Regions from separate parts of the Homo sapiens genome. Here region 2 is linked to region 1. Evidence: fine-mapped expression QTL. Tissue or cell type: whole blood. Region 1 holds a variant in brackets; the other region holds the start of a gene. All regions are shown on one strand. Distances are from middle to middle.

Region 1 (5,650 bases):
CCCAGCTTCCAGGTAGAGGACTCAGTCTCCCATTCAGCTCCTCCTTGGCCCCTTCAGCTAGGAAAACCCAGCACAGTCACACTAGGCTTGTGTTGACATTAGCCCTGACAGCCCCTCTCCACTCAGGATTGACTGTCTTCCCTTGTTCACCTTTGACATTATTCTCTAGGCACCTGCCCAGCCCACTGGAAGAAGGAAGCTTACAATTCTGTATGCTTGGAACCCACCAAAGCCTGAGGCCTCACTGGCACCCAGCCATCCACAGGAGTTAGCAGCTGTTTGAGTCCAGAAGGAAGAACTTTTGGAGTCGGAGGTGGGAAAGATAGAAATTGCATCCAAATTATCACATTCCCAGAACCCTCTTTTGGCCCTGTAAGTTATTCCCATAGCCATTGATCATGCAATAGCCTGGATGAAAAGAGTAGAGCTGGAATGAATAGCTACAGTCCTGGTTAACAACAGCTTGAATACAAGCTCATTCCACTCCCAAGTTTCAGGCTGGCCTATCTGGGAGACAAATGCCAACTACTGTGGTCCTACACATTTTTACCACCACTGCATGCAGAGATAAGAGAGAGTTACTGCACTTTCATTATGAAAAAAAGCAACCAAAATGGCTTGGAGTAAAAATGTAAATTTTTCCTAACCCTGCTTTATCTGATGAGATATCCACCTGCAGTGAGGAATCACTGCCAGTTTCCCCTCAGAAGGTGTAAAGATCAGGCTAGTTCTGGGAAGGAAGATTGAGTGAGCATATTATTAACCTAAATGGAATTAGATTTCCGTTTCAATAAAGATTCCCATTAAGGCTGCAAGCAATACAGCGACAGCAGTGCAGCCATAACCACCCACTGCCTGTAGGAAGATGTGCTTGAATTACACCTGGCTGTGCACCCCATTATCACTTCACAAAAGGTAGTAACTTGAGGTGGACCTCTGTGGTCACCGTGTCCTTCTGCTGATGCCACAAAGGAATCCTAGCTTGGATGCAATCAATAATCCAAACATACATTACTCATGTATCAGCATATGACAAGAGGATGACAGTGGTTAATCAGCTAATTATGACATGCTCTTTTCATCCCATAGTGTATGACTTATTGAATATTCTTGTATTTTTATGTTTAGTTGCAATGGAAAGGGTATGGCAACTATATTTTATTCAAACTGTGTCCATCAAGAAGGGCAAATCCGTATGTATGTGTGATTTTGTTTTTGTTTTTGTTTTTTTTGAGACAGAGTTTCGCTCCTCTTGCCCAGGCTGGAGTGCAATTGCGCGATCTTGGGTCACTGCAACCTTCGCCTCCCAGATACAAGCGATTCTCCTGCCTCAGCCTCCTGAGTAGCTGGGATTATAGGCGTGCACCACCATGCCTGGCTAATTTTTTTGTATTTTTAGTAGAGACGGGATTTCACCGTGTTGGCCAGGCTGGTCTCAAACTCCTGACCTCAGATGATCCACCCGACTAGGCCTCCCAGAGTGTTGGGATTACAGGGGTGAGCCACCACAACCAGCGAAATCCATGTTTTTATATCCCTGGGGGAGGCATTGCCAGGGCCTGCCATACTGGGGTAAGCAGCTACTCCAGAGTCTTTGTCCTGTTTACCTATTTCAAGTCTAATGAAAATGTCAATTCTCTTTTAAAAGACTTAGGAAAGACGTCACACACTGGCATCCTGTGAGCTGCTGCAGCCCTCAGATTTGTTTTGTATGAGCAGCAGGTTTTTTCATTGTGTTTTTGTTTTTGTTTTTTTCAATGAATTCACTGCCAGTCTTCAAAACTCTGCCCTCAGATTTGTTTTGTATGAGCAGCAGGTTTTCTCATTTTGTGTGTGTGTGTGTGTGTGTGTGTGTGTGTGTGTGTGTGTGTGTTTAATGAATTCAGAGTCTCTAAAAAAAACTAAGAAAATCTAACAGAAAAGTCTGGACTTCTAGTTTTTCTTGGAAAAAAAGATTGTCTGGCTATCCTGGGCCCAAATTCCCTCATGCTGACAAGTGGCAAGACTGAACAGCAACTGTTTCTGCGCTCCCGCTGGCCCCAGGGGAGGGCCGCTTTTTAATTTTACACCCAGCAGCTTCTTTCCCTTTTATCACCTGGCTACCTGCTGACTTGAGAGTACCATAAGGTAGAAACAGTCACCAGAAGACCACAGTTCCAGTCCCCACTGCACTGGGAAACCCTGGGCACCTACCATCACAATTTTAAGCCCTTCTTGCATATGAGGAGACTGGAGCCAGGGTGGTGAAGTGGCTTGCCCGAAGGCATTAGCCCAGTGTTCTTTCCAATGCACCAGTGATGAGCAACCTAAATGCAGACAAAAGTGCTTCTGTTGCTCAGAGAAAAGGTAGGGCACCGGGAGCTGAAGGCGCAGGGAGGAGGGTGCGGTGCAGGATGACTGCCTCACTTGCCAGATGTGTCTAAAAG[A/G]AGAATCCCCATTCTCTTCCTGTTTCCTCTATAGACAAATAATGTTCACCACTCCACTTCCTTGTTCCTTCACACCTGCTACTTTGGATTCAGACGAGAAGTTCCAAGAATCCCTGAGTCCACAGCATGACTCTGGTTTGCAGAACCTCTGTCCAGACCAGCCAGATCAGAATACAAAGGAAAGTGACACATCCTGGATCTCAACCCACTTCGATGGGAAGTCTTCCTGATAAATTTAGAGATAACCTAAAGCCCTTGGGGACTTCCTCTTGATTTGAATCTGCTGAACACCTGCCGCACCCCCACCGCACCCCCCCCCCCCGCCCCCCGCCACCGCAGATGAAAACATCAACTCTGCAGAATTAATGGATATGGGAATCACCTGGGGACCTCTCATTAAATTGCAAATTATGATTCAGAGGGTCTGGGGAGGGACAGAGACTCTGCATTTCTAACAAGCTCTCCGGTGGTGCCCACGCATCACCGGGGCCGGAGAACCTTCCATCATTCCAGCAATGCTCACCATCACTGCCATTCTTGCTCTTCTTTCTGGGGCCGTTGCCCATTTTCTCCATGGTATCCTTCTTTTTTCCTATTCTTTTCCTCTTTTAATCCTTTTTTTCTTCCCAGCCAACTCACTATTCCTATATCCCTGCTAACCCTCAATGCTCCTTCACTCAAAGATGAAGAAACTCCTGCCCTTTCTTCCTCCAGACATTCATCTCCCTCCCTCCCTCCTCTCCTCAGCTTTGTAGTGCCAGGAAAAGAAAGATCACCATTTACTGACAATTTTGTGTGAAGCACTGTCCCAAGTGCATTACCCATATTACTTAACTCTCACAACAACCCTGCAAAGTACACATTATTTCTGCCATTTTAGACATGAGAAAATTGGGACTTGGGGTGGTTAAAGAAATCTTGTCCTCAACCAGGAAGTAGTGATCTGAGATTAGAATTTAGATCTGTCTGAGGCCAAAGTCTACAACTTCTATACTGCACCATGCTCATATAAGGTGAACAATCTAGAAGGCAGCTGGTAGGAGTGGCTTCAGTAAAAAGGAATGGAATACCACGAGCTTCACCCCATTTATGCATCCTGAACCCTTCACTCCACTTTTGTTAAGTACATGCCCTATGAGACGGTTTGACATACCAATAATGAGAGCTGTTTCAAGAATGCCCAGATTAGCTAGGATGGTTGGGACCTAAATAGCACAGTAGTAATATTAAAGCCCAAAGTTGCCAATATGCTCAATTTTCAATGTAACCTTTTATTATAAATTAAGACCCATAACTGTACACACAGAGTCTGTTACCAAAAAAGAAATTCCTTCCATTGGCCAATTATTCAACCACATGAAGTCTACTAAAGGATGATGCCAAGCCACCCATCAGTCCACACAGGATCCATCATGGATGGATAGCCAGTTCCTTTTTCTCTCTCTAGTTTCTCTTCCTTGATTCCACCTCTAGGATCCCCTCGCTCTCTTATTGTCCTTTGCCTTGTCCTCAAGATCCTACCAAGAGTCCTGGCTTCCCACCTGGGAGCATGTACCAGTTCTCCAAACCTTTGTGTGTTTCTGATTCCTCAGACTACCGCATCTACAAACTAGGAAACTGTACTCTTGCTTATACTGGCCCTCTCCCTCCCTTGACTTTTATTAGATACATCAAAACAAAACAAAAAACTCCTTTTAAATTCTGTTAAAGATCCTGCAAGGTATGAAGGGAGGAGAAAAGGCAGGGGCTGGGTATGAGGAAAAGTCCATCTTGACATACAAAAATGTTAAAAGTCTATATACTCAAAGGAGAAGTGAAGAGTCAGACTTTTACATGTGGAACAGACAGGAAAACTGGGAGCAATATGGTGTAGTCATCAGATGTGGGTTCTAAATTCATCTCAGCTACCAACCAGCAGTGCAACCTTGGATAAGCTGTGTATTTTTCTCAATACCAGTTTCTTCATCTTTAAAGTGTGGAGATTGGATTGAACAATTACTAAGATTCCTTTGTTCTCTACTCTGCAGTGTCATCTCTAGCACCTAAAATAAAATAAACCAGAAATTAATGAAAGAGTGAAAATAATATTGCTCTAACCAGAAACTGAGATACTTGATTGAGTAAATGCATGAAAACAAGAAGGTAAAGAAACCATGATTAATAATAATAAATGAATAATAATAACAATAAAATATAAAAAATTAAATAAAGACAAAAATGAATGAGCCTATAGTTTTACTTTTTAAGAAGATGTTAAATGCCCTTCCAAAGTGGCCACTCATTATCCATAGCTATCAGTTACTTGTAAAATACACTGTTGGGACAATGCATATTCTATTCAGAAGTATATTGCCACTTAAAAACCTTGTTTTCCAATAAAAGCATTGAGTTATAAAATCAACCAACATTTTTATTCTAAACTATGGTAGGTAGATCAGAAATAAAATTAGGTCAACATGAATAATTTCCTTCATGGCAGGTTACGGAATTTAATGTACGTGATATTTTCCCTCTTTGAAGTTAACATGTAATTATGTTTGCTTTATGCCAATTTATCTGCTTCTAAATGTTCCAAACTGAAAAAAGGAAAACAAAGCCTGCCTGTAGCTGCCTCTTCCTTCATATACACACCAGGCCAAAAGACAGAATGGCTGGAGGCATGGTCTCCAAGTGTGTGCTTTGCGGGAGGCCTACCCACCCTAAAAGTATAAGGGCAAAAGTGTATCTCTTTGTGTTTTGGAGCTGACTGGCTCAGTAAAATTTTCTAAGTCAGTCTGCACGTACACCACTTCCTCAGTCTTATAAGTGAGGACGCCCTCCTGCATCTGGCCCTTAGAAACCTGACCCCTCCTGATTGGTCATCACTTATTTTCTGGGAATCAGCTTTCATCAGCCCAAACCCTTCCAGCAGAAGGATGCCCCAGCCTCTCTACTCAGGGGATAACTTGCCCAGGAGAAACATTTTTTGTGATGATGTTCTTCTCATTCTCTTTCTTCTGTAACCCCATCCTGGCCTCAGGTACCCATGGTCTCTATGCCAAAATCACAGGTGAAAATTATATTTTGATTATTTGGCTTAGATTCTCTCCAGGCCTGACTTTCAACTACCATTGAAATGATTCTCCTAAATAAATATTACCTGAGAAAACCCAAGTTCCACCATTTGGGTCTGTCATGTTCCCAGATGAGGGAAGCAACAGGCATCAAGAATTCCAGAACGTTAG
Region 2 (5,650 bases), 260 kb after region 1:
TGCTAGGTAACTTTCACATACTCAATTTAATACAGCCTTGGTAACTTAGCCTTTTCCTTAAGGGGGAAATGCAGTCTTATCTTCTCCCTTGAAATTTGAAATAGTAACTCTTCTAAAAAATGGCCACAATATTTGTGTTAAATTGAAAAAGAAAATGAGTTTTTCCTTTAAGGCAGAATGACTTCAAGAAAACACCATGAAGTCGGAACGATTTCACAAAAGACAACGAGAGGTTATGGTGTTAAGTTTCACCAGCAGCAGCCTCACTGGTCGCCAAGCTCATTGCTGTGGCCAAGAACCAAGGTTCTCCCAGTGTCCCAGCGTCTGAGTGGCATCATTCACCACTGATTTTTCAAGCCACGAAATGCACAGTCCAGTAGGGCACGTGATAATCTCTCCTTTGTCATGGAACAAAGGCAGATCGGAGTTTTCAGCCCTCACTGCAAGGGAGGGTTTACAAGAGCTTCTGATTACAGGCTGGAGGGAGGACGTGGCACCAGGCAAGAGTCTGGGCCCCGTGTACATTTGGCTGCCTATTAATCCAAAGATAAAGCCCTCCTACATCAGCACCAGCTCCTTTTGTTGTAAAATCCATAAGGTCATTAAACAAATATTGACTACAGAAATGTACAAATCCTATCCAAAATAGATTAGTGACAACAACAAAAAAATCTTGATCAAGTCAAATTTATTTATCGGGCACCTACTGTGTGCAAGATTTAGTGTGTCCCATCAGGAAACGGCACTCCCAATAAAGAAAAGCATTAATATGGTAATTTACTTAAAACAGGGTGCCTGTTTTGGACACCTTGTTTGGGATCCCGCAAAGTAACCTGTTCTTTATTCATGCAATGAGTTTTACTGCAGCAGGTGATGTTTTCTTTTTAAAACCTGGTGTATCAATCTGAGGATCTAAAGATCCTCTACACCAACAAAAAAATTATGTTTATTAAACTGACACTAAACAAAATTTTCTCTCCCAAGCTAGATTTATTCGCATTATTAAAACTTCTCACTTACAATGTTGGAGGAAAAAAATCTGGTCGGAGAGAAGATGGGGCGGGGAGTGGAGGGGGCCGGTTTCTCGCAGCCGCGCCCCTCCCCCATCAAAGAATTGAGGAAGGCTCGGGAGCGCAGCGGACTGGGAGGAAGACAATAGGGTACGGTTACCCCGCCAGCGGTGGGGAAGCGCGTTCCACACTCAGGCTGCACTCCCAGGTGAGCCCGGACTTTCGATGTCTGGGGACGGAGGACGCAGCGCGCCCAACTTTGGGGGAGAAGCCCCAGTGACAGTCCTCGATTAACCCCAATCGAAGGCGCTGGAGAGCCGTCACTCCCATCCTCCAAACCCGAACTGACCCAAACAAACGTACCTTCTTCGCCCCCGCCCCCGCTAGGGTCTCCCAGGCCCAGCCCCCGGTCTCTCTCGCCGGCGCGGTGCATCCATACACCCTCGAGGCAGCGCTGCGCGGCCCCGGGTACCCGCACCCGGGGCGAGGTTCCCCGGATGGAGGATCTAGGGAGACCGCGCTGGTAGCGGCGACCCGAACAAAGCCTGGCGGGGACTCGGGACAGAATCGTCCCACCATGCTGCCTCCCCAGAACTAGCCAATCTGGGCTAAAATAACATGGGGATCCTAAGATGACAAGCGATGGACGTGAAAGGTTGCCTCGCAGAGAGCGCAGCGTCAGGAGAGGGTCCCCGCCTCGGCTTCAGCCCGGAACCGGGGTTTGTTTAAAAAGGGCCAGATAGCCGTAGCTTCTCCGGGATACCCAATCCAACTCCGAGGGTGGAGGATGGGCGTGAGCCGCCCTCCCCGAAAGGGACCGTCGCCTCTCTTTGTGTAGAGCGCGGGGAGCGCGAAGACATTCCTAGGGGAAAGCGAGTCCTCAGGGACCCAGGGACAACGTCCCCAGGGAGCCCGAGCTCTCCAGGCGCTAATCCCTGCAGGCACCTCGGGCCTCTGGGTGAAAGTGGGAAGTAGTCACCTGGCTGCCTGGGAAGGGACAGCGTGGAACCTGGGGTGGGGCAGGGTCCTCTCAGCCCGCACGCGGAGCTGCATTGTTCCCAGGGCCGTGGGAGGAGGGGGGGCAGCACGCAAGGGAATGGAAAAATGGGGTCCACATGGCCCTCTCCCCTGGTCAGCTAAGCAAGATTCTCTCCCGGTCCCTGTCCGTGGCCCGAGGCAGGAGCGCAGGACGGTCCCCCGGGACCGGGTCCATCTCCCCTGCCCCCACCCCGGGAACGGCCCTCGAGCCCCGCCGGGCGCCAGGGCCTCACCTGCGTGGGTAGGAGCAGTGCCAGCAGCAGCAGCCCCAGCCCGAGCCTGGCCACCATTGCTCTGCCCATGTCCCCTCCGTCGGTGCGCGGCGCGTCTAGCAGGATGCTGGGTGCTTGGAGAACCGCTGGCTCCGGGCGGGCGCAGGCAAGGTGGGGAGCGCGGCGAGCCGGCGAGACCTTATATACCAGGAAAGCCACAATAGCCGTGACGTGGCGCCGCCCGCCCACCCCGGCTCCCCTCCGCCGCCGCCCGCCGCCTCCCCGCCTTCCCCGCCCCGCTCCGGGTTCCCCAGCGCCCCCGCCGCCGCCGCCACTGCCACCGCCGCTCCGGCCCTCGCGGGCCGGGAGCCCCCCGGGCGGGCGCCGCTGCAGGTGGGCGGGCGCCGCCGGCTGCTGGTACCCGGCTGGTATCCCCGCGCCGGCTGCGGGCTGCGGGCAGGCTGGCACAGGCGCCCAGCGCCTCCGGCACAGGACCCGGGGCACACACGCGAGCCACACACGCCGCGCTGGGGGCCGGGCCCAAGTTTCCTTTGTTTCCCGGGACCTGCCATCTTACCCCCCAAAAGAAAAGTCCGCGCCTCCGCTGCGGCGGGGTAGCCGCCTGTCCTGGAGCAAGTGCATTGCCACTCAGACTGCAAAATGCGCCCCGGGGACCCGAGAGGGGCTGCGAATTCCAGTGCGACCGCGTGGGGGGCGGGCGCCGGGACCCCTCGGGCAGGGTTATCTCTCGGCCCGCCGCAGAGGAAAGGGGAACGCGGCGGGCGTGGCGCGGACGCGGGCCGGACGCTCACCCTGGCCGACGGGACCCGGGCGCCGCCTAGCGCGAACCCTTCCCGGCTGGTCGGCGCTCCTCGCAGGCGGTGTCCGGGTCCGGAGCGATCTGCGCGCTCGGCCCCGCGGCCGCGCCCTCCCCGAAGCCCTTGCTTTGTTCTGTGAGCGCCTCGTGTCAGCCAGGCGCAGTGAGCTCACGGGGGCGTCCCGGGTCCGCATCTTCCCAGGAGCTGGGGAGCCGCTCGCTGGGCGCAGACCCGCTGCCTGACGCTGCAAACTACAGGGTTTCGGTCCCCCGCGCTCCTGCCTGCGGCGGGCGAGGAGGAGACGGCCCACCCTGAGGGGACCCCCTCCGCGGCCCTGAAGCCCCCACCGCCCTCCCCGAGCGGCTCTGCTCCCAGGTTCTACTCGGGGGCAGGAACCTCCCCTCCTGGCGGTCCCACTACAATTCACCGTCCCTCTCGAATTCCTGGGGATACACTTTTTCGGTCTCTGTTGCCCGTCATTCGTTTAAAGAGCAGAACCGTTCGAGATAAAGGCATTTACTTATCCGTAGTTGCCATTAGGCAATTTAATGAACCGGCACAAAGAGGAGATTCGTCATCACTCTTTAGATTTTGGTGGAATACTTTTTTCCTATCCATCTTATTGTGAAAACTTTCAAGCATACAACAAAAGTTGAAGTAATTTTACTGGTGGAGTATTTTGAGTTTAAATTTTAATTGCAAGACTTAATCTTTTTATTGAAGGTTTAGCCCAAGTGTTTTTCAGTCTTTAAAGCAAACAGCAGAGACCAAACCTAGTATGGTTGTAAATTTGTTTAAATTTCAGTTTTGCAGAACACTCTCGTTAGTATTTTTGGTTCAATTTTTAATTGCAAGACTTAATACTTTTATTTAAGGTTTAGCCCAAGCATTTTTCGGTCTTTAAAGTAAACCACAGAGTAGTAAGATTCTAAATTTGTCTAAATTTCACTTTTGCGTGGCAGTCTCATTAAAACAAAGTAAGTTTCAGGGAAGCAAAGTGACAATGAAATCTGCAGTAGGTTTGTTGACTGAATAGTGACTGAATTGGTTTGTGCCTTCAAGGTCAGTCACTTTAGCTCAGTAACTTTCCAAGCACGTTTAAGATGTGCTTGGGAACACAAGAATTTCTGTCGAGCACCAGTGGACTTTCCTGTTTAACAGTGTACCACATTATATAGAAATACTTTGGCCGGGCGTGGTGGCTCACACCTATAATCCCAGCACTTTAGGAGGCTGAGGAGGGCTGATCACCTGAGGTCAGGAGTTCCAGACCAACCTGACCAACATGGTGAAACCTAAAATCTAGTCTCTACTAAAATTTAGTCTCTACTAAAAATCCAAAATTAGCCATGCATGGTTGCTCATACCTGTAATCCCAGCTACTTGGGAGGCTGAGGCAGGAGAATAGCTTGAACCTGAGAGGTGGAGGTTGCAGTGAGCAGAGATCAGGCCATTGCATTCCAGCCTGGGCAACAAGAGCAAAACTCTGTCTCAAAAAAAAAAGAAAAAAGAAATAGTCTGGCCCAGCTTCTCCATTCCTTTTCCGGGTGAAAAAAATGGACTGTTTGTGACTCAGGAGTGCCGGGTTCCAAGGCAAGGAACATACTATGTCCTCCACAAGCTGCTTGTTGAACTAACTGGTGGTATTCCTAGGATAAGACAGCCTCTAAAGACAGACTGCCAGAGTTCAAACCGTGGCTCTGCTAATTTTGCTGGAGACAAAAAGCCTCAGTTCCTTCATCTATAAAATGGAGATAATAACATCATTACTAATTAGTTATTAAAGAGTTATTGTATATATAAGTGTTAGAATACTGCCTGCCTCAGAGTAGTAGCTCTCACTTAATATTTGCTCTTCCACTGAAGGTGCCAGCAACCAGAAGGTAATTACCTTCTCTGCCACTGTGTGATACGTGAAAGAATATCAGTCTCCAAATAATTCCCAAAACTGGCAAGGCACTCAGAATCTGTGCTTTGTGAACCATTTCATCACCAGCTAATGAGACTGGATAATTCACGTAGCAAAGCCCTTCACCTCTGCCCAGGAGTTCCCCCTGGGCATCCTACCGGGGGTGTTGCCCAGGACTTTGACAACTGGAGGCCCAACACAGGTAAGATACTTCTCTTTACAGGTCTCCACCCTACCCTTTTCCTGTACAGCTAGAAACTCAAGAAAACTGCCTGATTTTTCCTTTGCAGTTCTTTTGGCTTGTGATTCTTTCTTCCTATTCTTTATCCACTTCTCCTGGTTTTTCATAGTTTGTTTGCTAATAAAACCTGAGCCACGGCTGGGTGCAGTGGCTCACGCCTATAATCCCAGCACTTTGGGAGGCCGAGGCAGGCAGATCACATGGTCAGGAGATCGAGACCATCCTGGCTAACATGATGAAACCCCGTCTCTACTAAAAATACAAAAAATTACCTGGGCATGGTGGCACACGCCTGTAGTCCCAGCTACTCGGGAGGCTGAGGCAGGAGAATCGCTTGAACCCAGAAGGCGGAGGTTGCAGTGACCCAAGATCGTGCCACTGCACTCCAGCCTGGATGACAGAGCAAGACTCTGTCTCAAAAA

The links. PIP is the estimated chance that this variant, and not a neighbour inherited with it, causes the effect.
Region 2: it holds the start of CD24, and the variant in region 1 is fine-mapped to the expression of CD24 in whole blood (TOPMed, PIP above 0.99). The same link has a PIP of 0.9 or more in blood mononuclear cells.

What each region holds. Positions count from the first base shown.
Region 1 is chr6:106,713,775-106,719,424 of GRCh38, forward strand. It overlaps LINC02532 (long intergenic non-protein coding RNA 2532), which reads right to left. Exons shown (of 7, transcript NR_033557.2): 7 at 3,678-4,468. LOC105377927 (a long non-coding RNA gene) reads left to right here. Exons shown (of 4, transcript XR_942841.3): 3 at 170-313; 4 at 2,461-2,738. Among named protein-coding and RNA genes, the nearest start is that of LINC02526, 21 kb to the left of the region's middle. The variant A/G (reference allele first, on the strand shown) is at 2,427.
Region 2 is chr6:106,972,297-106,977,946 of GRCh38, forward strand. CD24 (CD24 molecule) reads right to left here and starts at 2,433. Exons shown (of 2, transcript NM_001359084.1): 1 at 2,282-2,433. The coding sequence starts at 2,350. RefSeq lists silencers at 2,785-2,934, 2,975-3,194.